4 linked regions of the Homo sapiens genome follow. The protein of the gene in region 2 interacts with the protein of the main gene of each other region in a pairwise test. Each region holds a gene or a part of one and is shown on either strand. Other genes may lie near its edges. The genes, in order: EFHC2, GOLGA1, CEP57L1 and KIAA1328.

What was found.
Region 1: the proteins of GOLGA1 (region 2) and EFHC2 interact in binary tests that used the Homo sapiens proteins (3 or more experiments, as listed by UniProt).
Region 3: the proteins of GOLGA1 (region 2) and CEP57L1 interact in binary tests that used the Homo sapiens proteins (3 or more experiments, as listed by UniProt).
Region 4: the proteins of GOLGA1 (region 2) and KIAA1328 interact in binary tests that used the Homo sapiens proteins (3 or more experiments, as listed by UniProt).

The regions. Positions count from the first base shown.
Region 1 is NC_000023.11:44,147,370-44,151,705, forward strand, and holds the end of EFHC2 (EF-hand domain-containing family member C2), read right to left. Parts: intron 1,528-4,336; coding exon 1,426-1,527; 3' UTR 503-1,425; downstream 1-502. UniProt on the Homo sapiens protein: Microtubule inner protein (MIP) part of the dynein-decorated doublet microtubules (DMTs) in cilia axoneme, which is required for motile cilia beating.
Region 2 is NC_000009.12:124,889,082-124,896,116, reverse strand, and holds part of GOLGA1 (golgin subfamily A member 1), read left to right. Parts: intron 1-5,638; coding exon 5,639-5,728; intron 5,729-6,580; coding exon 6,581-6,683; intron 6,684-6,813; coding exon 6,814-6,974; intron 6,975-7,035. UniProt on the Homo sapiens protein: Involved in vesicular trafficking at the Golgi apparatus level. Involved in endosome-to-Golgi trafficking. Mechanistically, captures transport vesicles arriving from endosomes via the protein TBC1D23.
Region 3 is NC_000006.12:109,091,245-109,098,518, forward strand, and holds the start of CEP57L1 (centrosomal protein CEP57L1), read left to right. Parts: upstream 1-4,262; 5' UTR 4,263-4,331; intron 4,332-7,274. Other genes in the region: SESN1 (sestrin-1), read right to left, coding at 2,551-2,829. UniProt on the Homo sapiens protein: Centrosomal protein which may be required for microtubule attachment to centrosomes.
Region 4 is NC_000018.10:37,154,102-37,161,136, reverse strand, and holds part of KIAA1328 (protein hinderin), read right to left. Parts: intron 961-7,035; coding exon of another isoform or gene 938-960; coding exon 756-937; intron 1-755. UniProt on the Homo sapiens protein: Competes with SMC1 for binding to SMC3. May affect the availability of SMC3 to engage in the formation of multimeric protein complexes.

The sequences.
Region 1 (4,336 bases), on a different chromosome or scaffold from region 2:
TGGCTTGGCACTGTCAGTTGCCTTAAAAAAAACCTGGGACAAAAATCAAGTAGTCAAATTTAGGATTTATGGTAGATAGTTTTAGTATATAAATTGAGTATACTAGTTTAGTGTTAAGTCCTGAAAGGGTTGGGAGGAGCGTCTATTCTAACAATAGCACATGTGGAATTATCCTAGGCTTACATATAGAAATCGTTTATTGATTAACTCCAATTTTTTAAAAATGAAAGGGCCATTGTTGTGGAGAATAAATTGGTACATTTGAGTGCCAAGAAGCCAGCAAGACACTGCTGCAAATGTGGAGTGAAAGAATAATGAGTCCGAAGGGTCCCTTGAGATGTCATCAGCTCTTCTTTTTCTCAGGGTAGTCCCTGAAAGGTAAATGGTGCAGCTCCTTTTTGAGACCTCCATTGTCTCCCAGAACACCAGGCAAATGGATTTATGATACATAGCATCCAACACTGAACAATGGCATAGACTGGGATAGACTTCTTACACTGAATTCCCAGAGGTACATGGCTATGGGTTTTAATCAAATGTACACTACATGACAAGAGTTCTGCTGAAGAAAAATAAAAATAGAACTAGAAAAATGCAGGGGAAAAATGTTGTAGTTTCTGAATATTTAAACCTCTAGGGTGGGGCGCGTGGGATGTGTGTGTAAAACAAACCAAAAAAAAAACAAAAATCTCAAAATCTTCAGCTTTCACATTTGTAAATATTTTAGACATAATAAAGTTTTGGTCAAACTATAATTATACACACATGCATATATTCCTAAGCTAACAAGCTGACTTTAGATAGAAAAAAGGGCATTACAAATATAAATACTGCATATGTTTCCAGTGTGTGTGCACGTGCGTGTGTGTGTGTGTGTGTGTGTGTGTTGGAGGTTCTTTTTCTTCCCATAGCTTTACTAAGTTCAAAAGATAAATATATTTACTCTAGAGAGGTTTAAGAATTATTTTGATGAGGTGGGTTGCTACAAAACTTAATTATGTAAGTAATAAACGTGTCAAAAAGGTTTCAAAAATGTTTAATAGAATCACAACTTATTGCTGTGATATAATTTGATTTTGTATTGTCATGTATAACCTTCAAAAGTCATTTTCTGTTCATATAGTAATGAATCAAATTATGTTGGATCAAAAATTATCAGAAGATTTTTTGGTATTAATAAACCATACATATAATAAAAATATTCAACATGTTTTAAGATGGCATTTTAAATAGTAACAGTACGTCGGCAATGTAACATGATGTTCTGTAAAACTAACATGACAAAATAGGATTAATTGTGGTTTATGGATTTCCATTTAATATAAACCTTGTTTCTTTTTTGTTTTTAATGAAATTATATCTACTAAAGTAAATGTGGCAAAATGAGAGAAGTAAATCATAGAGAATTGACCAAAACTGGCATGGTTATTCCTCCTCTAAGCCAAACGCGTCCTTCAAAAAGGTCCAGTAGTCAATGTATTTCGCAGGAATAGGTGATGGCATACCAAGCCAAACATCTTCACATCTCTAGAAAAAAACCAAAAATGGATATGATTAGAACCACATTTCAAAGTACAGTTTTGAAAATTCAACACCAGTTTATTTGCAAAGTGAAAATTTCTACCATCTACTTTAGGTTCATAAGGACTTTGTGGTCTACTGGATACTTGTTCTTGATTCTTCATTCCCTCCCTGTATAAGAATTATGTGCCCACACTCTTTGTCATATGACTCTGTAGAACCTCCTGTGGAGTAAGAAGGGTATATTTTCCTGTTCCTTTGATATGGGGTTGGCCACATGACTGGCTTTGACCTATGTACTATTAGCAGACATATCATGGACAGAGGCTCTAGCGTGCTGGCATCATTTGGCTTGGCCTTCTGTGCCTCTGCCATCACCATGAAAAGAACATGGCCCAGGATGCTGCTGTTCTTAGAATGACCAAGGTGGATCAGACCAGGCTGGACTTGCGGACTAAGAGCCAAGCTTAGCTGAATCCAGCCATGCTTCACTGACCTACATGCCCATAGACAAGAAAAAGAAATGTGTCTTGTTGTGAACCATTGAAATTTAAGGAGTTGTTATGCAGCATGAATACGCTGATAGATCCTCCTATACTTTCTTAAGAACCCAATTTTTATTTTTATTTTATTATTTTTTTTAAAGACAGGGTATCACTTTGTTGCCCAGGCTGGAGTACACTGGCACAATCTCTGCTCACTGCAACCTCCAACTCCCGGGTTCAAGTGATTCTCATGCCTCAGCCTCCCGAGTAGCTGGGATTACAGGCACATGCCACCATGCCCGGCTAATTTTTGTATTTCTAGGAGACGGGTTTCGCCATATAGGCCGGACTGGTCTGGTCTCAAACTCCCGGCTTCAAGTTATATGTCCACCTCAGCCTCCCAAAGTGCTGGAATTACAGACGTGAACTGCTGCCTAAAGAACCCAATTTTTAAAATACAAACTGGTATCTATACTGGCTGATTGGTTACTGTTTCTTCAGTAAACAATGAAAAGAACACTGGATCACTCACAGTATGATCTTGCAGATAAGCCACTTTATTTGTGTGTGTGTGTGTACACATATACACACACAGATGCACATTTTATATAATACATAAATACGTGTATATACACACACACAAACTTTTTGCATATGCCTCAATGGTTAATTAATATCAACAGGAGGCAAAGTTCATACATATGGTTGCTTATATTTCTACTTTCAAGGTTAAAATATGACTGTCAAGGTTAATTGTTGTATATAAGAGGTTCTATATCTTTACTAGTGTTACATTAGTATCCAGAATCACAAGGTGTCACAGAAACATAGGTAAAGGCTCAATAATTTGATGTGATGGAATTTTGGAAGCAAGCTGAATAAGTGGTGATTCAGTTGCACCTTATGGGATGAAAAACAGTTCAGCAGAGGGTTTAGGGTTGTGAAGGGTATTCCAGGCATAGGGACCAGCGTAAGCAAAGGCCTGGAGATCTAAAATCTATTTTCAAGAAAGGGTGAGTAGCCCAGTGTGGTTTGCGGCACATGGTGCAAAGTGGCAAGAGAGATGGTTAGAAGGAGAAGCTGGGGCCAAACTTCTGGCCTTCTGTGCTAGTTTATACTTGAGGCTGTGGTTAGGGGAAGTCACTGGTAGGTCTTGGCCAGGGAAATGACAGAAATCTGATTAGAAACTGATTAGCTAACTTGCTGGATGTACAGAGAATGACATGAAGTAAGAAAATCAATCTGGAGGTGAGTACTATAATACCGCAGAAAAATGACTGTGCCATAACCAGGGTGGCTGAAGCGGGCATGGAGGACAGGAGCTACTCTGAGAGATGCTGCTGCAGGAGAACATGAAATAGCTAGAAGGGGATCAACTTGAAATGGTGACAAAAGAAAGGTGTAGTGCTATGGGTTGAGTTGTGTCCTCATGCAAAAGAGTTATGTGAAGTCCTAATCCCTAGTACCTCAGAATGTGACCTTGTTTGGAAATAGGGTTTTTGCAGATGTAATTAGGTAAATTAAGATGAGCAAAATGAGATCATACCGGAGTAGGGTGGGCCCCTAATCCAATATGACTGGCCTCCCTATAAAAAGACAGCCAGGTAAAGACAGAGACACACAGGGGGAACACCAGGTGACCATAGAGGCAGAGATTAGAGGTTTGCAGCTGCAAACCAAGGAACGCCAAAGATTGCCAGAAAACCATCAAAGTCTAGGAAGAGGCAGGGAAGGATTCCCACACAGGTTTCAGAGAAAGTATGGCCCTGCTGACACCTAGATTTTGAACTGCTAGCCTCCAGAACTGTGGAAGAATAAATTTCTATTGTTTTAAGCAACTCAGTCTGTGGTACTTTGTGAGGGCATCACTAGGAAACTAATACAGGTAAGGATGGTTCTAAGAATTCTAAATTCAGTAATAGTTGACAGTGTCTGTTATTAGTTTCCTGGGGCTGCCGTAACAAAGTACCACAAAGTAAGTGGCTTAAAGCAACAGAAACTTATTCTTTCACAGTTCAGAAGGCCAGAAGTCCAAAACCAAGGTGTTGGCAGCGTTGGATCTTTCTGGAGGCTCTAAGGAAGAATTTATTCCATGCCTCTCTCCTGGCTTCTGGTGGTGGCTGGCAGTCATTCCTTGGCTTGTAAGCACATCACTCCAACGTCTGCCTCCAACTTCACATGGTGTTCTCTGTGTATACCAATATGTCTTCACGCAGCTTTCTTATAAAGTCACCAATCAATGCATTTAGGGTCCACTCTAATCCAGCATAACTTCATTTTAATTAATTATATCTGCAAAGATTATTTCCAAATAAGGTCACATTCTGAGG
Region 2 (7,035 bases):
AGGACTTAGGAATGAGAAAAAAATAGGAATTGTAGATGACACCTAGGTTTGGTTTGTATAACTCAGAGTTTCTCCACCTCAGCGCTATTGACGTTTGAGGCCGGATGGTTCTCTGTTGTAGAGGTTCTCTGTTGTGGATGGTTCTCTGTTGTGGATGGTTCTCTGTTATAGAGGGTCTCTGTTGTGGAGGGTCTCTGTTGTGGATGGTTCTCTGTTGTGGGTGGGTCTCTGTTGTGGGTGGGTCTCTGTTGTGGAGGGTTCTCTGTTGTGGAGGGTTCTCTGTTGTGGAGGGTTCTCTGTTGTGGAGGGTCTCTGTTGGGGATGGTTCTCTGTTGTGGAGGCTCTCTGTTGTGGAGGTTCTCTGTTGTGGAGGATCTCTGTTGTGGATGGTTCTGTGTTGTGGAGGGTTCTGTGTTGTGGAGGGTTCTCTGTTGTGGAGGGTCTCTGTTGTGGATGGTTCTCTGTCGTGGAGGCTCTCTGTCGTGGAGGCTCCCTGTCGTGGAGGCTCTCTGTCGTGGAGGGTCTCTGTCGTGGGTGGTTCTTTGTTGTGGAGGGTCTCTGTTGTGGATGGTTCTCTGTTGTGGAGGGTCTCTGTTGTGGAGGGTCTCTGTTGTGGAGGGTTCTCTGTTGTGGAGGGTCTCTGTTGTGGAGGGTTCTCTGTTGTGGAGGGTTGTCTGTTGTGGAGGGTTCTCTGTTGTGGAGCGTCTCTGTTGTGGAGAGTCTCTGTTGTGGAGGGTTCTCTGTTGTGGAGAGTCTGTTGTGGAGGGTTCTCTGTTGTGGAGAGTCTCTGTTGTGGATGGTTCTCTGTTGTGGAGGGTTCTCTGTTGTGGAGGGTTCTCTGTTGTGGATGGTTCTCTGTTATGGAGGGTTCTCTGTTGTGGAGGGTTCTCTCTTGTGGATGGTTCTCTGTTGTGGATGGTTCTCTGTTATGGAGGGTCTCTGTTGTGGAGGGTCTCTGTTGTGGAGAGTCTGTTGTGGATGGTTCTCTGTTGTGGAGAGTCTCTGTTGTGGAGGGTCTCTGTTGTGGGTGGTTCTTTGTTGTGGGTGGTTCTCTGTTGTGGATGGTTCTTTGTTGTGGGTGGTTCTCTGTTGTGAATGGTTCTTTGTTGTGGATGGGTCTCTGTTGTGGAGGGTTCTCTGTTGTGGATGGGTCTCTGTTGTGGATGGGTCTCTGTTGTGGAGGGTCTCTGTTGTGGATGGTTCTCTGTTTTGGATGGGTCTCTGTTGTGGAGGTTCTCTGTTGTGGAAGTTCTTTGTTGTATTTGCTGCAAATATGCATGATAAGATGCTTAGGAGCATCTACCCACTAGATGTCAGTAGCAGCCCCACTTAGGACAACCACAGTGTCTCCAGACATTGCCAAATGTCTTGTGGGGGCAAAAGCACTGCTGGCAGAGAACCACTGGGGTAACTGAATGAATAGGGTACGTACCATTCACTGAGATGGGGGTCCTGGGAGGTATGTCAAGAGTGGATTCCATTTTGGGCATGTTGAGCTTCAGAGGCCTACCCAACAGGCATATCTAGTAGTCTGTAGGCTGACAAGTCTGGAAAATTGGAGCAGATTCTGAGTAGACATATAAATTAGGAAGCCTGTGTGCCTATAGTTCCAGCTGCTTGGGAGCCCAGGAGGCGGAGCTTGCAGTGTGCAAGATCGTACCACTGCACTCCAGCCTGGATGACAGAGCAAGAACCTATTTCAAACACACACACACACACACACACACACACACACAAAACTTTAAATTAGGAAACCATCAATCAGCATAGCTCATAGGCAAAATTACAGCCAAATGGCTATCAATGAGTGCAGATAGAAAAGAGGCCAAAATGAAGGCCAGGGCCACACCCACAAGCACAGGCTCAGAACAAAAGGAGGGGCCGACAGAGAAGACGCCAAAGGAGCCGCAGGTAGGGTAGCAGTAAAAGCAGGTGCATGTGGGGCTCTGGAAGTACAGGGCAGAAAGCGCTACAAGAAGGATTGAGTAGTGAACTCTGTGATATGCTGCCAACTGGTCAAGAAAGGAGACAAAGAGCTGACCATTAGATTTGACGAGACTGAGTTTGTTGGCAACGCTGGGAAGAATAGTCACCGTAGAGTCGTAGGGAATATGGTTGACGAGAGCAGGTTAAAATGAGACTAGAGAGATGCTTCCACTTGCAGTAAAGGCAAACTAGGTAATTCAGACCAGCTCACCTGAGGACTCCCAGAAAAACTGGCCAAAATAAGAGAACATCTGCTTGTAGGAGCCTACAGGACTGAGGAATGGCCCATCCTGCCCAGGGACGGGAGTCCAGCATGCAAAGCAGCTTTTGCCGTGGTGGTATCTGCTGATCCTGAAGAGGCTGGAAGTTTATCTAAGTTTTTCATAGTTTCTCAGAGTTAGGGGAATAAAATTTGGAGTTTAAATTTTATTAAAGCTTGGATCCAGCCTGGGAGATCCTGAAAGCTTTGGTTAGGCACACCACAGGACTACACGCTAGGAGTAAGCTTGAACGGGAAGTAACCAGCACCCCATCTGCACCCCGCCCCCAGCTTTGATTGCACTAACTGAAGGACACGGGGTGGCCCAGGAAAAGCCCATTAGCTAATTTTGGATTAAAATGATCCCAGGTTATTAGTGCTCCTGGGTGACTAGAAAAAACAAAATCAAAGATAGGTAAACAAAAATACAAAACAACACAAAAGAAACAGACTCACAAGGGCTCAGATATCATATGCTTACTATGTTTAAGGAGATAAAAGACAAAATTTAAAATTTCAGCAAGATGTGGAATAGTTCTATTATTATAGTTATGATAAAAGACAGCAGTTTTAAAAAAGGAATCAAATAGAACTTTAGACCTGAAAAATAGAATAACTGAAATTAATACAATAAATTACAAAAGGACAGGAGGAAGCTTTCTGGGGGATGGGTATTTTTACTATTTTTATTAGGGTGATGGTTTCATCACAGTTCATCAAGGCATACACCTGTAGTCCCAGCTACTCAGGAGACTGGGGCAGGACGCTCTCTTGAGCCTAGAAGGTCGAGGCTGCAGTGAGCTATCATCACAAACTGGACTGCAGCCTGGGTGATAGAGCAAGAACCCATTTCCAAAAACATAAAAATTTAAATGTAAACATATAGAAAACTCTTATATGTTTACATTTAAGAAATACACTTTCTTTTTTTTTTTTTTTGAGATGGAATTTCTCTCCTGTTGCCCAGGCTGGAGTGCAATGGCGTGATCTCGGCTCACTGCAACCTCCGCCTCCTGGGTTCAAGCGATTCTCCTGCCTTAGCCTCCTGAGTAGCTGGGATCACAGGCATGCACCACCACACTAGGCTAATTTTGTGTTTTCAGTAGAGATGGGGTTTCTCCATGTTGGTCAGGCTGGTCTCGAACTCTCAACCTCAGGTGATCCGTCCACTTTTGCCTCCCAAAGTGCTGGGATTACAGGCGTGAGCCACCATGCCCAGCCTGAAATACACTTTCAAATAACCCATAGGTCAAAGAAAAAAATCACAATGGAAATTTTAAAATATTTTGAAATAAAGTTGGGCACAGTGGCTCACACAGTGAGCTGAGATTGTGCCATTGCACTCCAGCCTGGGTGACAAGAGCAAAACTCTGTCTCAAAAAAATAATTATAATATTTTGAAATAAATGATTTTGTAAATACTGTGGATCAAAATTGGTCAAGTATAACTAAAGCAGTGCATGGAAGGAAATTTCAGTCTCAGTGGCATCTCTTAGGAAGAAAGCCTGAAAATTGAGCCATGTATGCATCTCAAAAAGTCAGAAGAAGGCACAAATCAAACTCAAGGAAGAAATAACAAATATAAGCACAGAAATTAATGAAATAGAAAATAAAATGGGCCCGGCGTGGTGGCTCACCCCTGTAATCCCAGCACTTTGGGAGGCCAAAGCGGATGGATCACATGAGGTCAGGAATTCAAGACCAGCCTGACCAACATGGTGAAAGTCCATCTCTACTAAAAATACAAAAATTAGCTGGGCATAGTGGCACATGCCTGTAATCCCAGCTACCTGGGAGGCTGAGGCAGGAGAATTGTTTGAACCCGGGAGTCAGAGATTGCAGTGAGCTGAGATCGTGCCATTGCACTCCAGCCTGGGCAACAAAAATGAAACTGTCTCAGGAATGAAGTGAAGAAGGGAGGGAGGGAGGCTGGGCGCAGTGGCTCAAACCAGTAATCCCAGCATTTTGGGAGGCCAAGGCAGGTAGATCACCTAAGGTCAGGAGTTTGAGACCAGCCTGGCCAACATGGCGAAACCCGGTCTCTACTAAAAATACAAAAATTAGCTGGGTGTGGTGGCACATGCCTGTAGTCCCAGCTACTCGGGAGGGGGAGGCAGGAGAATCGTCTGAACCCAGGAGGCAGAGGTTGCAGTGAGCTGAGATTGCGCCATTGCACTCCAGCCTGGGAAACAAGAGAGAAGCTCCATCTCAAAAAAGAAAAAAAAAAACAAAAGAATGGGACCCTCTCATAGTAGCGAGGACTGCTGAAGCCTGAGGTGGATTATTTGAAGGTGAATAAAATCGCTAAGCTCTGGGTGAGACAGATCAAGGCCATATTTAGTTTAACAGTCTACTTGTTCCATCAGCTACTAAGAAGGGTGTGCTCAGTCTTCCACTACGATGGTAGATTTGTCTCTTTCTTCCTTTAGTTCTGTCTGTCTTTGCTTCATGTATTTTGAAGTGCTGCTATTAGGTGCACATACATTTAGAATTGTTTTTCTCCATCCACGCTCTTCAAAGCAGCTGTTCCCTAAGCCCATCCTGGAGAATCATCGCAGAGGCAGCCGTGCATGGGTGGCCTGGTGGCTTCTGCAAGCTGCAGGCCCTGCTTTGTGCCACAGTGAACCTGAGCAGGCACTGTCAACCCCACCTCCCACAGTGCTGGATCTTAGGTGGCTCTGAGGCGCTAGGGCAGACTTTGGAGCCACAGAGACTCAGTTCTGTCTTGTCAGCCTAGCCCCTCACTAGCTGATGCTTGAAGGAATCCATTTTCCTGCAGCCTTGACCTCCCGGACACAAGCAATCCTCTCGCCTCGGCCTCCTGAGTAGCTGGCACTACAGGCATGTGACACCATGCTCGGCTAATTTTTCTTATTGTTTATAGAGACAGATCCTCACTGTGTTACCCAGGATGGCCTTGAACTCCTGGGTTCAAGCGATCCTCCCACCTCAGCCTCCTGAAGTGCTGGGATTATTGGTGTGAGCCACCGTCCCTGGTCATTACTTCTTCTTCTTTCCATAACCAATTGTTCCAGTCCCCCACTCCATTCACGTGGCCTGCGAGTCTGACTTCTTGTTCTTGGCTACTGTCCTTAGACCAGCTCTTCAGGATAGGCCCCTAGCCTTGGTGTGGGTCCTGGCGGGGGTGCTCGTGGGGCAATCGATCCTCAGTGGTGTGCCATTTCCAGAGAAGTCGGTGGGTTGCCTGCCAGGATAGCTCTGAGAGGGATACTGAGGGCATGGCAGGGAGGGGCCAGGCTGGGAGCCTGGGAAGTGGGGAGCATGTTGGTCTGGCTCTGCAAAGCCATGCCCTGTCTGCTGGGCTTCTTGCGTGGCATACAGCTAAAAAACTGTGAACTAAGTTTTGGGGCTCAGTGGTTTTCTGCATTGTAGGAAGAATGGAGCCAAAGAGAAATTGTGAGCGTGGCCATGGCTCAAGCCCTGGAGGAGGTGCGGAAGCAAAGGGAAGAGTTCCAGCAACAGGTGGGCCCTGTTTCACGCTGAGGGGCGATGTCCCCCTGCAGTCCCACAGGCAGCAGGCCCATCCTGCCGTGAGACTGTTGGAGAGGGCCTGTCTCTCCAGGGTAGGGTAGTAGACTCAGGACTCAGGGAATGCAGTCAGCTGCGTGGGCCCCTGTGCTCTCTAGGAAGCTGGGAGACAAATGTTATAAAGAAACTCTTACCCCATAGGATGCCCTTTTCTGATTTTTCAACTATAATTACCTGGAAAGTGGTCCATGTCCACGGGCCTAGTGGGCTCTAATTCTGTGAGGTGACCTATCATTGCCCACCTGCCCCAGAGGCCACGTAAGGTTGGGTTGAGTTTTTGCAGGAAGTATGGGAAAGCCTCCCTTGAAGGTAGACTTTGCATCTGACCCCAGAGCTTCTAGTTAAGTGGCTTTAGGCCTTTGGTAAGTCCTTAACAAATCTGAGTCTCCTCTGATGAGGACTCTAGCCTTCTACTTACACCTCTGGGAAACTATTCTGTAATGAGGCAACATATATCAAATGCGTGTCTAGTGCTGGGGATGTTGCAGGCACTCAGGAAATGGAAGTTATGACAGCTTGTTGGGCTGGGCAGAATGGCCACGTCTCTGGTTGACCCACTGTTGGCCAGGGGGCAGTGGGAGGCGACTGCCCCTGTGCAGGGCCCCTACCAAGGAGAATAGATTTGTGCATGTTCATAGGAGCAGAGCTTAGCTGGGGGTTTGCTCTGGGTCGTGGACTTCAGGGAGGGATTCGTGGTGTACCCTGGAGAGCGGGGAAGTGGAGATTTCTGTGGGAAGATGGAGTCACTGCTCACAACCTTCCCTCTTGTTGATTTTTCTCTCCAAGGCAGCTAACCTGACAGCCATAATAGACGAGAAGGAACAGAATCTGCGGGAAAAAACCGAAGTGCTTCTCCAGAAAGAGCAGGAGATTCTCCAGCTGGAGCGAGGTGAGGAGTCGGTCCCTGGCTGAGCCTTCTCTCCTTTTCAGGCCCAGCATCCTGCCTTGTGACGGCCTTGCCACCAAGCAGCATGGAGTCACTGGGCTCACAGTGCCCCCTCCCCTCCTCCCCGACCTAGGTCACAACTCTGCCCTGCTGCAGATACACCAGCTGCAGGCCGAGCTGGAGGCCCTGAGGACCCTCAAGGCGGAGGAGGCTGCAGTGGTCGCGGAGCAGGAGGACCTGCTGAGGCTGCGGGGCCCATTGCAGGCCGAAGCACTCTCAGTCAATGAGTCGCACGTAAGTCCCAGCTGCACCTGCATGGGTGCTACAGCAAGATGCAGGGCAGGTGCCGAGAGTG
Region 3 (7,274 bases), on a different chromosome or scaffold from region 2:
TGACACGCTGTACGGGTTTGTAGCCTAGAAACAACAGGCTATATAACACATAGCCTAGGTGTGTAGTATCTAGGTTTGTGTGATTTCACCCTATGATGTTCAAACAAATATGATACCACCTAACGATGCATTTCTCAGAGTGTATCACCATCATTAAGTGACACATGACAGTATCGCAGCCAGGTCTGCCAAACTCCAGAGTATGTCCTCTTAAGCTATTCACGCCACCCTCAAACTGTCTGCCCCAGCCATATTGCATTACTTTCAGCTCCTAGAACTCATCTGCTCTCCTTGGCATGAGGCCTTCATACATACCGTTCCCTATGTCCGGAATGTCCCCTCACAAATCTCACCTTTACATGGGTAATATTTATTCATTTATCATGTCTCTGCTTAAATGTCATTGCCTCAGGAAAGCTTTCCCTTACTATCTAAAATTAAATTTTATATTTGTTTACTTCTTTATGGTCTGTTTCCCTTTGGTATGATGTCAAAATTGTTACCACTGGTCCTCAGTTCTCAGAATGACATTCAGCAGGAGTTCAATAAACATTTGTTGCATAACTGCAAGCATAAATGAATGATGCTGGGGTGGAAACTCCCTAAACTGAAAACTTCATCTATTCAGACTACTGATGAAAAACAGAAAGAAAGTATAAATTTGTTCATCCACTGGATATTTATTTAGTAGCTTCCAGGTCCCAGCCAGTACTCTTAAGAACTCATAGCCTTCCTATGGGAGACAGACACAAAAGCATGTGCTTATAACACAATATAAGTAAATTGCCTTTTATAATTGTACAATAGATGCAGAGATGGAAAAAAAGAGTATAAGTCTATAGGGAACCTTCCCAGGAAATTCCTGAGTCCTTTTGCAGGATGAAAGAGTCTTGAAATATATATTGCATAGTCTATGTATTTCACTTATGAAAGGGAGAGGAGCATCTACTATATATACCAGAGTACTTTACATCTGATTTAATTCCCACAAGAGCTCTGTGTTGTTATTCCCATTTTACAGATGTGGAAATCCAAGCTAAGAAAGGTCAAGGAATTTGCCCAAGGTTACAGGCAAGGACATTAGTAAAGGAGTGGAATTTGAGCCCAACTCTGACTCCAGTACCCACTTATTTATCATTATATTGAAATCCTTTGATACTATGCTCCCCAGAGCCTGCTTACTTTTATTTTCAATATAACTCTTAACACGATTGGTTATCTGGTTTCCCATTCTAATATGAATTAAGCAGCAAAATGAAAGATCAGGAAGAGACCAAAGTCAAGTATCCTGACGGCAAAGGAAAGAACAGAAAAACTATAAAAATTACACACAAAAATACAAAAACTAATGGATCATATAGTCAGTCCTCCACCCTTTGCTGCACAACAATAGTTGATATGCATAATGATGACCCCATTATGGACAAAAATGGTTGTTACAGTCACTACAGTCTAGAAGATAGAGAAATAACTTTTTGTGTTTCAAAGGGTAAACTTCAGTTACCTAGTATATTAATTCCTCTCGGGTAACTCTGAATTGTAACAATTGTTTCCAAAGTGTTAGTGAGAAGAAATATCCCAAGATCTTAAATAGAGTCTTCATTTTGTGGATATTATTTTTCTGTTGCTTTAAACTAAATTCAAGCCAGTATATAAAAACTGTCACTTTTAACTTACATAGTTACCCAAGTACATTTTAAATTTTAAAAATCTCTCATACAGGACTTTGGACAACACACGTGGATTGAGAAATGTAAAGATTGACAAGCATATATAAGGTGTTGCTGAATATTGTCAATATCTAAAAACTTAAAAAAAAGTATTCTAAGACACCTTGTAATAAAACAGGATAAATTATGAACGAAATGGAGGAAAAACTATAATATTTTTAACCTGCTGCACTCGTATCTTAAATAGCTACACATGTGAAAAAGAAACAATTCAGGCAAACACAGAGAAAGCTAGTTGAGCAATTTGCCATAAAAGTGTTTCTATCAAATACCCCACCTGGGTCCACCTTTTCAACATGAAGATATTAGCTTCTTTTAAGATAGGTTTTTATTATTTTATATAATTCTCTTCTTGAAAAAAGAGAGGTTGCATTTAGAGAACACATCCTGGTTTGTTTTGTTTTTAAAAATAAGAGAAAATTGTTCCACCAATTATCTTGAACAGGCTGACTAGGAAACATTTAATATCCTTTATCATTTTAGAGGCTTTTAAATGTGAGCCTTTACACTCAGAACACTGTGACAATGTGAAAAAAAAACACTGGCTACATTTTCCAACAACATGTAAAAAGAAATATAAGGAAAAACAAGTATTTACTTGGAATTAACTGTAGTTTTCATATATTCTTCCAGGAGCAAAGCAGTTTCTGCCTAAAACTCTAGAAAAACACTACTTGTTTACTTACAGAACACTCTAAAGATGTAAACTCATAATAAAAGTTTACATAACAACCTAATAGAAACAAACACAACGTGAATAACGGCAAGTAAAATTTAACTGTAGTAGAGACATAGTTGTATTTAAAATGCTCTTCCTTACCTGGATGCTCTTCAGAATAAACTCACTTTTCTCTCTCACATCTTTGAAGGGACACCTCTTAGAAAGCATAAGCAGATGAGCAAGTAGCTTATTCAACCCATCCGAAGACTCGGTATTTGAAAGCCCGTCTGATGGACGATGAGGTGTTTCTTTCACCGAACGAAGATACTCGGTTTTCCTCAAAATGGTTTGCCTAATGTTTTCCAATGCTGTCTCCCTAGTAGTTGAATCTCTGCTGCAGAGTCCATCCCATCTCACTTCATTCTCTCCTTCAGCCATGACAATAGTTTTTCCTTTGCGGTCTTCAGTTACCTTTCAGCATGCCCCAAAAAAATTGCTTTGTATTTTTAAAATGAAAAATGTAAAAATAAAATCAGAGAAATCAAATCGTCATGAAAACACACATCTGGGTGACATTTGGAACCACTGGTGCCTTCAGCCGATCTACAAGCTAGGTCACCCTCTCACCCTCTCCTTGTACACGAAAGGGCAGTCTTCTTTCTGGAAAAACAAAGTTTGAAAGTTGCAACCTTGCAGCGCTGGCTTTGGTGGGCAGAGAATTTCGGGGAAGCGTTCTCCTCCGTCTCGCGGGGTCAGTGGATATCCTCACGTTGTGGAGCTGTCAAATCCGTGCTCTGCCCCAAAAGGCTGTTAACAGCTGAACGCCCTCCAGCCATTCGGGGCTTTTTTGTCTGTGCAGCCACCGGGTTCTCTCCGGCGTTCCCACCCCGCCCCTTCTCCGACACCAGTCCCCGCCCTCCGCAGCTCCTCCCAGCGCCTCAGCAGCCGGCCGGCGCCGGCAGGGAAGGCTCGCCGAACCCTGGCCCACTGGCCGCAGCGGCCGGAGGCTTGGGCGCTGTCGGAGGGCGGCAGTCTCGGGCAGCCGTAGTCTCGGCGGGCGGCGGTGAAAAAAAGCGTCCCCCAGCCCCGCCAATTCGGCACCCCCGGGAAGACGCTACTTCTCCGATCCCTGAGCCCTCGCCCACCACCGCCGAGCCAGAGGGCACAGGGCGGCCCTGGCAATCCTCGAGCGCCAGGCTGGGCCGCGGAGCTGGCGGGGCGGCGGGGCCCGAGGCGCAAAGCCCGCCCTTCGCCCAGCCCCATCGGTGGGGATCAGCCCAGAGGGCGGGAGCAGGGAGTGGAGACGGGGTCCTCACCCCCAGCCCCTCCCCTTTCTCCGCCCGGCACAAACCGGGAGCCGCCCCGGCCCCAGCGCCTTCTTCCCCGCCCAGGCAGACGCGACCCGCCGAGGCAAAGCCTTAGGAAAAAGCCCCGCCCTCTGGCAGGCTACCCTCCGGACCCCAAGTGCGCCGCGCGCGGCTGCCAGCCACTGCCGGCTGCTACGCATGCGTGACTGCGAACTGGGCCAAGCGCCCCCGGAGGCGCTAAGCTTGCGCCCTGAGGCGGTTTCCGTTCCCGGACGTTTGGACTCTGTCCTGGAGAAGGGGAAGGAAAAAGTAAGACGTAGAAGTACACTGAGACTTCGTCACACATAAAACAAGCACGACAAAGAAAGAGGGCGCGAAGGGACTCCTGGAAGAAATTGAGTCTACATTTAAGATCACCCTAAAAGTAGTGACGGCCTCTTCATTACTCCAAACCCCAGATTTAAGTCGGTAGGACGTCTTCGCGTTGACTTGTGGGGAATGTAGTTTCGATGCTGCCGGCGCGTTTTGTTTGCGACAGAAACTACAACCCCCAGGGGCCACCGCGACGTTGCCTGTGGGTGCCCGCGAACCAACGGTTAGCGGTGGCAGGGGCTGACTGAGAGCGTCTGCTTGGTAAGCACTGTAAGCTGGGTTGTCACCTTTCCTTGACAGGGTTTTTCCTTCCTCCATTTCCTCTGGGATTTTGGAGACAAAGCCATCTAGGGTGGCCTCCCTTAGTCCAAGGACTTTTTCCAGTGACTTGCGTGGGAAGGACTAGTCCAGCTGCCCAAGCGCGGGGTGTGGTGGGTGAGGCAAGGATTTGGGATCCTGATCCCAAGGGTCGCAGGGAGCGGCCTAAGTAAGGCCAAGAAGGAAGGATGCTGTGGAAACTGGAGCTTCGCGCTGCTGCCTCTGATTCCGCCCTTTTTTGTGGACACACGCGGGGTGGATTTGGGATCTCCGCGCATTTGCACCTTTGTTTGCCTTTGCTTAGGGATGTTCTGGGCTTTATTTGCTCAGTCAAATGAAATCCTAGGCAGGGCTTTGAAAGCAAGTTGTCAAATCCATCTCGTAAAAGAATCCCCAGTATTCCTAGATAGGAATTCTTGCAGGCTTTAAGGATACAGCAGGAAAAAGAAAGCAAAACCGTAAAAGTCTCCAAAACTTAGTCGACTTTTTCAAAAGATTCAGTCATTTGCTTAAAATTAGTTTGCTTTTAAAAAGTTATTATTTGAGAAAAGTCGAGGTTTGAACGGCCATCAGTGGACTGATAATCGGTGTAGATTTTAATTCTTTACATTGCAGAATTGCATTGCACTAAATTCTAAAAATTTCGTCTTGCTAGGCACTGAGTATACAACAATGAAAAAGACAGTCTTACTAGTTAGAGGAACTAGTTGTTAGACATACGGTTACAATAATACATGATATCACTGGGATGTCTAGAAGGAGATGACTTAGCCCAATCTTGGAAAGTCAGGGAAATCTTCATCCCAGGGGAAATGAAGACCAAAAGAACAGCATATGCTAAGGCCCAGAGTGAGAGATAGGGTACTTTCAGGAAACGTCAGTAAGCCAAATCATGCATACTTGGCGGTGTGGGGTGGGACGGGAAGGGTGCTTTTTGTGTATTGATGCACTTAGAAGCTACAAAGAGACAGGTATTGTGAATTCTTTACATCGTTTCTGTAAGTGAGCTATTTTTGAATAGATGCATAGTTCTGATGAATTGGTCTAATTTCAAAAGCCTTGTTACATTCTGACACTTCTAGTTTGAATCTGAATTTTAAAAAGGGAATAACTTATGAGTGTGATTGAAAAAGCAAAACAAAAACCATTCCGTTTTCATCTCCTTTTTGGGATCTTCATTCTCTATCCAGCCCATAAAGGGTCGGGTAGTTTCTTAAGGCTGGGTGCCTTTTTATGCCGTAGTTAAATATGATCTCATGTATACCCATGGCTTCACCAACACCTATGACTCTCAAATGAATAGCTCCATTCAGCTTCACCTCTCAGCTTTCACAATATCTCTTGGATATTTCTTCTTGGATATCTCAAAAGCATCTCAAACTCAACATACCTAAAACCAAATGCATAGTTATCTCTTATGAATCTAATTCTTTTTCAGTGTTCCTTATTTCAGCAAAGGACACTACTATCCATCTACTTGTGAAAATTTGAAAGCTAAACATTATTCTTTATTTCTTCTTGCCCTTCATACTTCTATGGCCAAATTATTATGAAGTTCTGCCAACCTTATCTCTCAAAATATCCTTCAAATATATTTTTCTCTCCACCTGTCTTCAAACTGCGATAATCTCTCAAGACCACTACAGTAGCAATTATTCACAATGACCCTCCTCCATTAGTTCTCCATTATATCTGCCAGAATGATTTTTTGAAACTGCAGATTTGATCAGATTTTCTCTTGGTTAAAACTATTCAGTGGTGTCCTACTACTGTTAAAGACAAAACTCCTTTATAAAGCCTGACATCATCTGGTACTCTTTCAGACTAACTTCATATATTGCCCTCCAGATCAGCCATACAGTCCATTTTTCAGTCATTGGTTCTCATATTCCATTTCACCCACGCGTTTACTCAACAAATCTCTGTTGAGTCCCTTTTATATAACAGGACATTGAAGATACAGCATTGACCACAATATATAAAAATTCCTACTGTCATAGAGCTTGCATTCTACTGAGGAGAGATAATAAATAAATATGTAAAACACTTAGTAAATGAAATGAAGACAAATGCAGTGGAGAATAAAACAACTGGGAAGGGGAATGGGGAGTGCCAGGATGTGAGGGGCAAGGTTCACTTTTAAATAAGGTTGTTAGAAAAGACATAATCCAGAAGGGGACAATTGAGATATGAAGTAGGGGAGGGAATAAACCATGTAGATGCCTGGGCAAATAACATTCTAATGAAGAGAATTAGTGCAAAGGCCTTGGGCAGAAGCCTGAGTGCGCATTTGAGAAATAGCAAGAAGGCTAGTGTGGCTGGAGCACAATGAGTACAAAGAGGAGAATAACATGAGGTCACAGAGAAAGGAAGTAATGGTAGGAGAACATGTAGGTGACTGAAAGGACTAACATTTTTAATTGGGTTGGGAAAGCATTGGAGAGTTTTGCGCAGATGAGGGCATGATCTGACTTTTAAAAAATGACTACTTTTCTCTCTCTCTCTTTCTCTCTCTCTCTCTCTCCCTCTGTCTCAACGGAGTTTTGCTCTTGTTGCCCAGGCTGGAGTGCAATAGCACAATCTTGGCTCACTGCAACCTCCACCTCCCAAGTTTAAGTGATTCTTCGTCCTCGGCCTCCCAAGTAGCTGGGATTACAGGCATGCACCACCATACCTGGCTAATTTTGTGTTTTTAGTAGAGACAGGGTTTCACCATGTTGGTCAGGCTGGTCTTGAATTCCTAACCTCAAGTGATCCACCCACCTCAGCCTTGCAAAGTGCTGGATTACAGGTGTGAGCCACCGTGCCCGGCCTCTTTCTTTTTTCCTGAGACAGAATCTGACTATGTCACCCAGGCTGGAGTATAGTCATAGCTCACTGCATCCT
Region 4 (7,035 bases), on a different chromosome or scaffold from region 2:
GGAAAAAAGACACTAGGAAAGAGGTGTGAGCAGGAGAGGGCTCAGAGGTCTTTTTGGTCTTTTGTTTCCTGTACATCTTTTCTGTACAATAAAGCTCAGACTTGCTCCATTCTTTTCCAAAGTCGTTCCTTTAAGGATGCCAGGAAAGATTAAGCCAAAAGCCTCTCCAGGAACAACTGGGAAACAAATAAATTTGCTTCACTCAACATTTAACATAGTTACTTATAATTGATTTCTTTAAAGTCTACCACATATAACAGGAAGTATTATTGACACTTAAAAGACTGTTAGGCAAAAAATGCTTTAGACTTGTGAGGTTTTGCTTTAGTCACAATATGGGGAATTGTCCATGACCTCTCCTCCACCCTCCCCATGTTTCCAGTCAATTGAGGATTAACTGTAGTTGTTAGGGTTTATTTTTCCAGGAGAGATTTATGTTCAATATCTTGCCCTCTTTACTCACTTGGAACATTATTTTAGTCTATGACCATACTTACTGCTGACTAATTCTTAACAGTTATTGCTTGCAAAAAGAGGGACAAGTTGGATACAGTTTTTCATTCCAGTATTCTAAGAAAAACACAGACACAATTCACTAATCTAGTAAATGTGTTACCTGTGGCCTTGCAGGCACACTTCAGTGTGTAAACATTTAACTTTTGCTCAGCATTGTAGGAAATCATCTGAAATTCATTGGCTAGCAACTACCTTCCCCTACCAGTTTCTCATTTTGCCACTACAGTTGTTAAACTTACCTCTTTGGGGTCTACATGTATCTTTCTTTTGACATGACCACTGGGCATCATCTTTCATATGCGAATGAAACCCAACTGTCTTCCTCTCCTTCCTATTCTCTCCACTGTTTGGGGGGTCTTGGTGCTTTTTAATAGATGATGATGTTCCAAGCAGCCAGCCATCACAGTTTGACTTCAATAAACTGAAAGAACAACGATGAATGAACTGTTGAAGGCACAGAAGGGAACACAGAGCACATAGATATTTAAATTCAGTATGGGTTGAAATGCAATTCATTAAGAACTCTCTTTATCTTACCTTTTATTGAGGTATAATTTAAATAATTTACTCAACGTCTATTTTGTGTCCTGTCACAACAATTTTGGAAAAGAAATGGCCTTTATTCTCAAAAAGCTTACACTGGGAGTTGGGGAAATAAGATTCAAACTGATGAAACAGCTAATAAAGTCACAGAATATGACTAAGAACCAGGCTATCTATAGAAATAAAAAGTATGCTAAAACAGGACTTGCATATCTAAGATGTTTTCCAAGTACTAAAAATGAACACTAGGGATTAAAATATCACCAATGTGCCTCACACAAACGCGTTTGTGTTTCTAATTTTCAATTGTTATTAGTATTTATTATGTACCCAGAGTACGTAAGGAGTAGTGTAACAGTGCACGTAGAAGAACTAGACTCCATACTTACATAGTTTCATTAAAAGGTCAACAAGACAAATATAGAATAAAAGGCATTTTAATGAAAATGAACACATGTACATATTTTCTTCTCTAATAAACCGTGTTCCCACCATTAGCATATTTCCTCTTATAATATTTTCTTATTTTAGGGAAAAATATTCTAATGATGTGTTATCTCTCACTATTCCACTCTTCCCTCTTCGTGTTTGTTCACAACAAACTCATGACACTTTGGTTTTGTCTTCCCCATGCCCATAAACAATGTGAAAATTAAAGAAAAAGACATGGAAATGCATAGAGGCAGCTACTCAAAAAACAAGATTCTAAAATTAAAACGTTTAAACTCCCCAGAAGCAAAGGGAATCTCTAGACAAGAACAAGCTGAATGGAGTGTTGCCAGGTCTATCACTTACTCCAGGTGGCCTTTGACCAGGATTCAAATCACATAATCTTCTATAAATGTCTCTGGTTTATATCGATCAGAATTTTTAGCAGTGTTTGCTCATATCATAATTTATTAACAAAAACCAAGAAAGTAAATGGCTTTATGTTCAGAATTATATAAAGAAAATAAAATCATTAGTTATATGGCTTTATAAAGTAGGCACAAGAAAATGTATAAAAGTGATACTCTTCTTTTTTTTTTAAATCAGAACACAGAGACCATTTTCCTCTCAGACCCACCAGAAGATGTATAACTTAGGGTTATACAAATTGCACTCACGGAACAGGGAAATACGGAAAATAAAAGTACCTTATTGTGAATGTTATATAAATTTACGTCAACCCAGAGGCCCCAAACCCAGGCAAATCCAGTGACTACATCTCTGCTTGTTCTGTAGAAAAATGAATGTGACCCCAACCATTGGCTTCCCCAAATTTGATTCATTCTCAGCTCAGCCAGACTCCCAATACTGACTGCCTTCTGCTTCTTTACAGCATTTTCACAGAAGCTTTTCTGTACCTTTATTCAAAATTCCACCTTGGTAATCCTCCATCACAACTGGAAACTTGGCTTCTAATTTCCCTAAAATAAAGATGACTATATGAAAAATTTCTTCCTTCATTTGTATTTATTTCCATATTCACCCATCTACTATTCCTCTCTTCATGTCTCAAAAAATTTTACCTTTTATTTGCACTCTTGATACCATCTTGACCCATCCCCTCTGTGACTATGGCCTGTCAATCATCTCTTTTTCTTATAACTCACAAACTCCTCCTCTAAACTGGATTTTTTCCTAGGGCTACAAACAAGAGCAGATCCTCCATTAATACCCAGTGTCAGTGAGCGTGTGGGGACAAGAGCACTTTAATACCTATTGCAGGAACCACAAATGGGTATCACCTTTTTGTGAGTGACTTGTCAACACAAAATGAAAATGCATCCCTCTTTCAACAGTTCTACTTTTATCCCACACCTGAGGCCAGAAATTTGAGATCGGACTGGGCATCACAGCAAGACCCCATCACTAAAGAAAAAAAATTGTTTTAAATTAGCCAGGCATGGTGGCATGTGCCTATAGTTCCAGCTACTTGGGAAGCTGAGGCAGCAGGATAGCTTGAGCCCAGGAGTTTGGGCTTATAGTGAGATATGACCATGCCACTGCACTCCAGCCTGGGAGACAGTGAGACTCTGTTTCCAAAAAAAAAGAAAGAAAGAAAGAAAGAAAAAAAAAGGAATTTCTCCTGCAGAATTACATGAACAACAGCATGAGAATATTTGTTTAAGGATAATCACTGGAGAATTATTTGTAATAGTGAAAAACTGAAAGCAAATATCATTCTATAAGAGAATGAATAAATTATGGTACATATTAATTATAAAGAACACTATTCAGCCATTAAAAAGAATGAGGTAATTCTTTTTTTTTTTTTTTTTTTTTTTGGAGAGGAGTCTCACTCTGTTGCCCGGGCTGGAGTGCAGTGGCGCAGTCTTTGCTCACCACAACCTCCACCTTCCAGGTCAAGTGATTCTCCTGCCTCAGCCTCCCGAGTGCTGGGACTACAGGCACACACCACCATGTCCGGCTAATTTTTGTATTTTTAGTAGAGATGGGGTTTCACTATGTTGGCCAGGCTGGTCTTGAACTCCTGACCTCGTGATCTGCCCACTCGGCCTCCCAAAGTGCTGGGATTACAGGTGTGAGCCACCACACTTGGCTAGGATGAGGTAATTCTTTACACTGATGAGAAGAAACTTCATGACATGCTATTAAAATAAAAGCAATTTGCAATTATAGAGTATATAATGTGATCTCATTTTTATAAAAATAAAAATATACAAAAATATTTTTAAAGTTCTGGATGGATAAATGTCAAACTAGAAGGGAGTAGAAGAAATAGAGGGAAGAGTTTTATATTTTAATTTATATAACTCTGAATGTTTTAATTTCTTCCAATAGGCATGCATTTTATAATTTAAAAACAAACAAAAAACTCTCACCATGTCCCTTCCATTACCATCTCCTCTCTCCTTGTCTGCTGAACGTCTAGAAAACAATAATTTATTCTAACAGACATACCGACTAGAACTTGTTTTTAAAGAACAAATCAAAAGGCCTTTCTTCTTTGAACAGTCTTGCTTGTTACTAGATCACCCTACAGAAATTCAAGAAATTCAAGAAAACATTTTTTCTTGAAATGTTTTCTCCCTTGGTCTTCATAACACATTATCCTGACTGGTTTTCTGGTTTTAGGAGACTTCTTCCTTCCCCTTAGATGCAGACATTGCAAAAGTCTGTCCCTGTCCTCTTCCCTCTTAGTACTTTCTTGGTGATCCTTGCCACACCTCTATATCTGCAAGTACGATTTCTAAACAGATTCTTCTAGTTCACAGTGCTTGCCAAAACTGCTGACCTGATCAAGTATCTGATGAAAAGCTGTAAAGCGATGTCTATTCCTGCCTCCCAAACCAACTCTTGCTAAAGCAATCCAGTATCTTTATCTTGAAACTACTTCCTCCTTCTGTTTCCATTCTCACTTAATGATATCACCATCCTCCCAGTCACTCATAAGAAATCTCAGTTGTCTCAACTTCTGCTCTCCTTATTCCTTTTTAATAAATTTCCTAATCAATCATTCACTTATATATTCATCAGATATTGACTGAAGAACACACTTTATGGGCCTGATATGTACTGTGAGACTGGGCTGGGCAAAATGGAAAACAAACATTTACAGAGGACTTATTTTATGCTAGGTGCTGGGTATACAAACATGAGAAAGCCCTCGTTCCCATTCTTTTTTTTTTTTTTTTTTTTTTTTTTGAGGCGGAGTTTCTCTCTTGTCACCTAGGCTGGAGTGCAATGGCACAATCTCGGCTCACCACAACCTCTGCCTCCCGGGTTCAAGCGGTTCTCCTGCCTCAGCCTCCCGAGTAGCTGGGATTACAGGCATGCAATCCCATGCCTGTAATTTTGTTACATGCCCGGCTAACTTTGTATTTTTTAGTAGAGATGGGGTTTCTCCATGTTGGTGAGGCTGGTCTCGAACTCCCGACCTCAGGTGATCTGCCCGCCTTGGCCTCCCAAAGTCCTGGGATTACAGGTGTGAGCCACCGAGCCCGGCCCAGCCCTGGTTCCTATTCTTAAAGAGATTTTAGTGGGGGAGACAGACGTGGAAACAGAATTTTTAATACCATATGCCAAATGCAGTAATTCAGGAATATACTGGATGTTATGAGAGTGCAAGGGCAAGGCACCTAACTTTATTTGCATAACAGAAGAGAGATTCCTGAAATACTCAAACTTAACCTTGAAAGATAAGGAAAAATGTAAGAATGTTCTAGGTAAAATAAAAAAGTATTAGCAAATATACCAACAAATGAAACTTCAGTTCATATTTTGGGAAAGTTAAATAGCTAGGTATTGTTACAGCATTAAACTTTGGGTGTGTGGTAGGGAGGAACGGAGATGAAGCAGGTAAGACAGGGCAGGTCAGATCATGAAAGGTTGCGTTTTCCATGCTGAGGGGCTTGAACTCTATCTTGTGGCCAAGGTGGAGTCACTGAAAGGCTCTCAGGAGAAAAATGATATGATCCAACCAGAATTTATGAAAAATTACTCTGGCACCATTTAGAGAATGGGCTTCAAGAAACTGGATGAGTTGGAAGGCTGCTGAAACAGCTCTGGTGAGAGATGAAGGTTTGCAATAGAGAAGCGGTAGTAGGAACGGAAAGACATAGTTTAAGAAATATTTAGGATTTAAAAAGGGTAGAACTTGATGTAAGAGAGAGGGAGAGAAAAGTCAAGAATGACTGCCAGAATTTTGGGTTGATAAGCAATACAGAGGAGGATTGGGGAAGGGTGGGAAAAATTAACTGCAGCTTGAGATGCTTATGGAACATCTGAGAAGATATTTCAAGAAAGTAATTTGATCAGTAACTCCATGGCTTTTTGCTATTGGCTAAGTGAGTTTAGAGGTGGTAGAGTTGAGGGAGGCAGAGTTGAGAAAGAATATGCTTCAATTTCAATTTCCTTGGTGTAGGAGGAGATACAGTCATTCTTGTGAGTGAGTAAAGCAGGTATTGAGAAGAGAGGTGAAGGTTTGGAGTATGTATTGAGGGAATTCGAAATAGAAATGAAAAGAAAAAGATTTTCCTGAAATGTTGAGGCCCTAACAGAAATAGAAATCATCCATTTGTAGCAGGGCTCAAGTGCAGAGATTAAAAAGCAGAGAAAGCAGTGTGAGAGCTCAATCTAGGGTTAGGATTTTTACTGGGACAATGCAGCAGACTGGGGGTCAAGGGAAATAAATATATTAATGTAGTATAGGTCAACCATTCGGTCCAGGAAGAAAGTGAGGCAACAGGGACTGAAAAGACTGGCAGAAAAATGAGGGGAAATAAATAATTTAGATATCCCTTTAAGGTAAAGCGAAAATAAAACAGCAACAACACCAGAAATATAAAAACCCTTGGTATGGTGTATGTGATAAACATGAGAATATAAGCTGTAAAGAAAGAGGCTGGGATGGCAGAGTCAATGATTTTTCTGATGAAACCATGGTGGGTGATAGCAAGCTCTGGGTGTCACCATGGATGATGCTGGAGTGAATTGAGGAACGCAGAAATTCTTTAGCTATGGCAATGGATACATCAACCATATGGATATTGGGATCTCACAGAATGATGGTAGGAGTTATGGGGGAGAAAGTGACTTTAAGTGGGACGTCAAGGTCCTAGTGAGATAATGATGGAAAACAAAGGATGGAAAAGGATGGACTGCTGCAGTAAAACTAGACATATATTTAGATTCACATAAATAAAGAGATATGCAAGAAAAATGCTGGCACTCCTCTCTCTGTTGTTTATCAAATGTGACAGAAAGAATGGCCTCTAATAGAAGTGGTGCTCTCAGAAAAGATGCTGATTTTAGGCAGTGATTCACAGCTTGGCAATACATTTAAATAATCTGGGGAATTTTTAATAAGAGCGATGGACTGAGTCTCACCCACTTGTCGAAACTGAATTAATCAGTCTAGGGTGGGACCTGGATATTATTTGCTTCCCTCTCTCACTCTCCTCTCCTTTTAAAAAAGTTCTATAGGTGATTCTAATGTTCAGATAGGATTGAAAATTACTGAGTTATTGT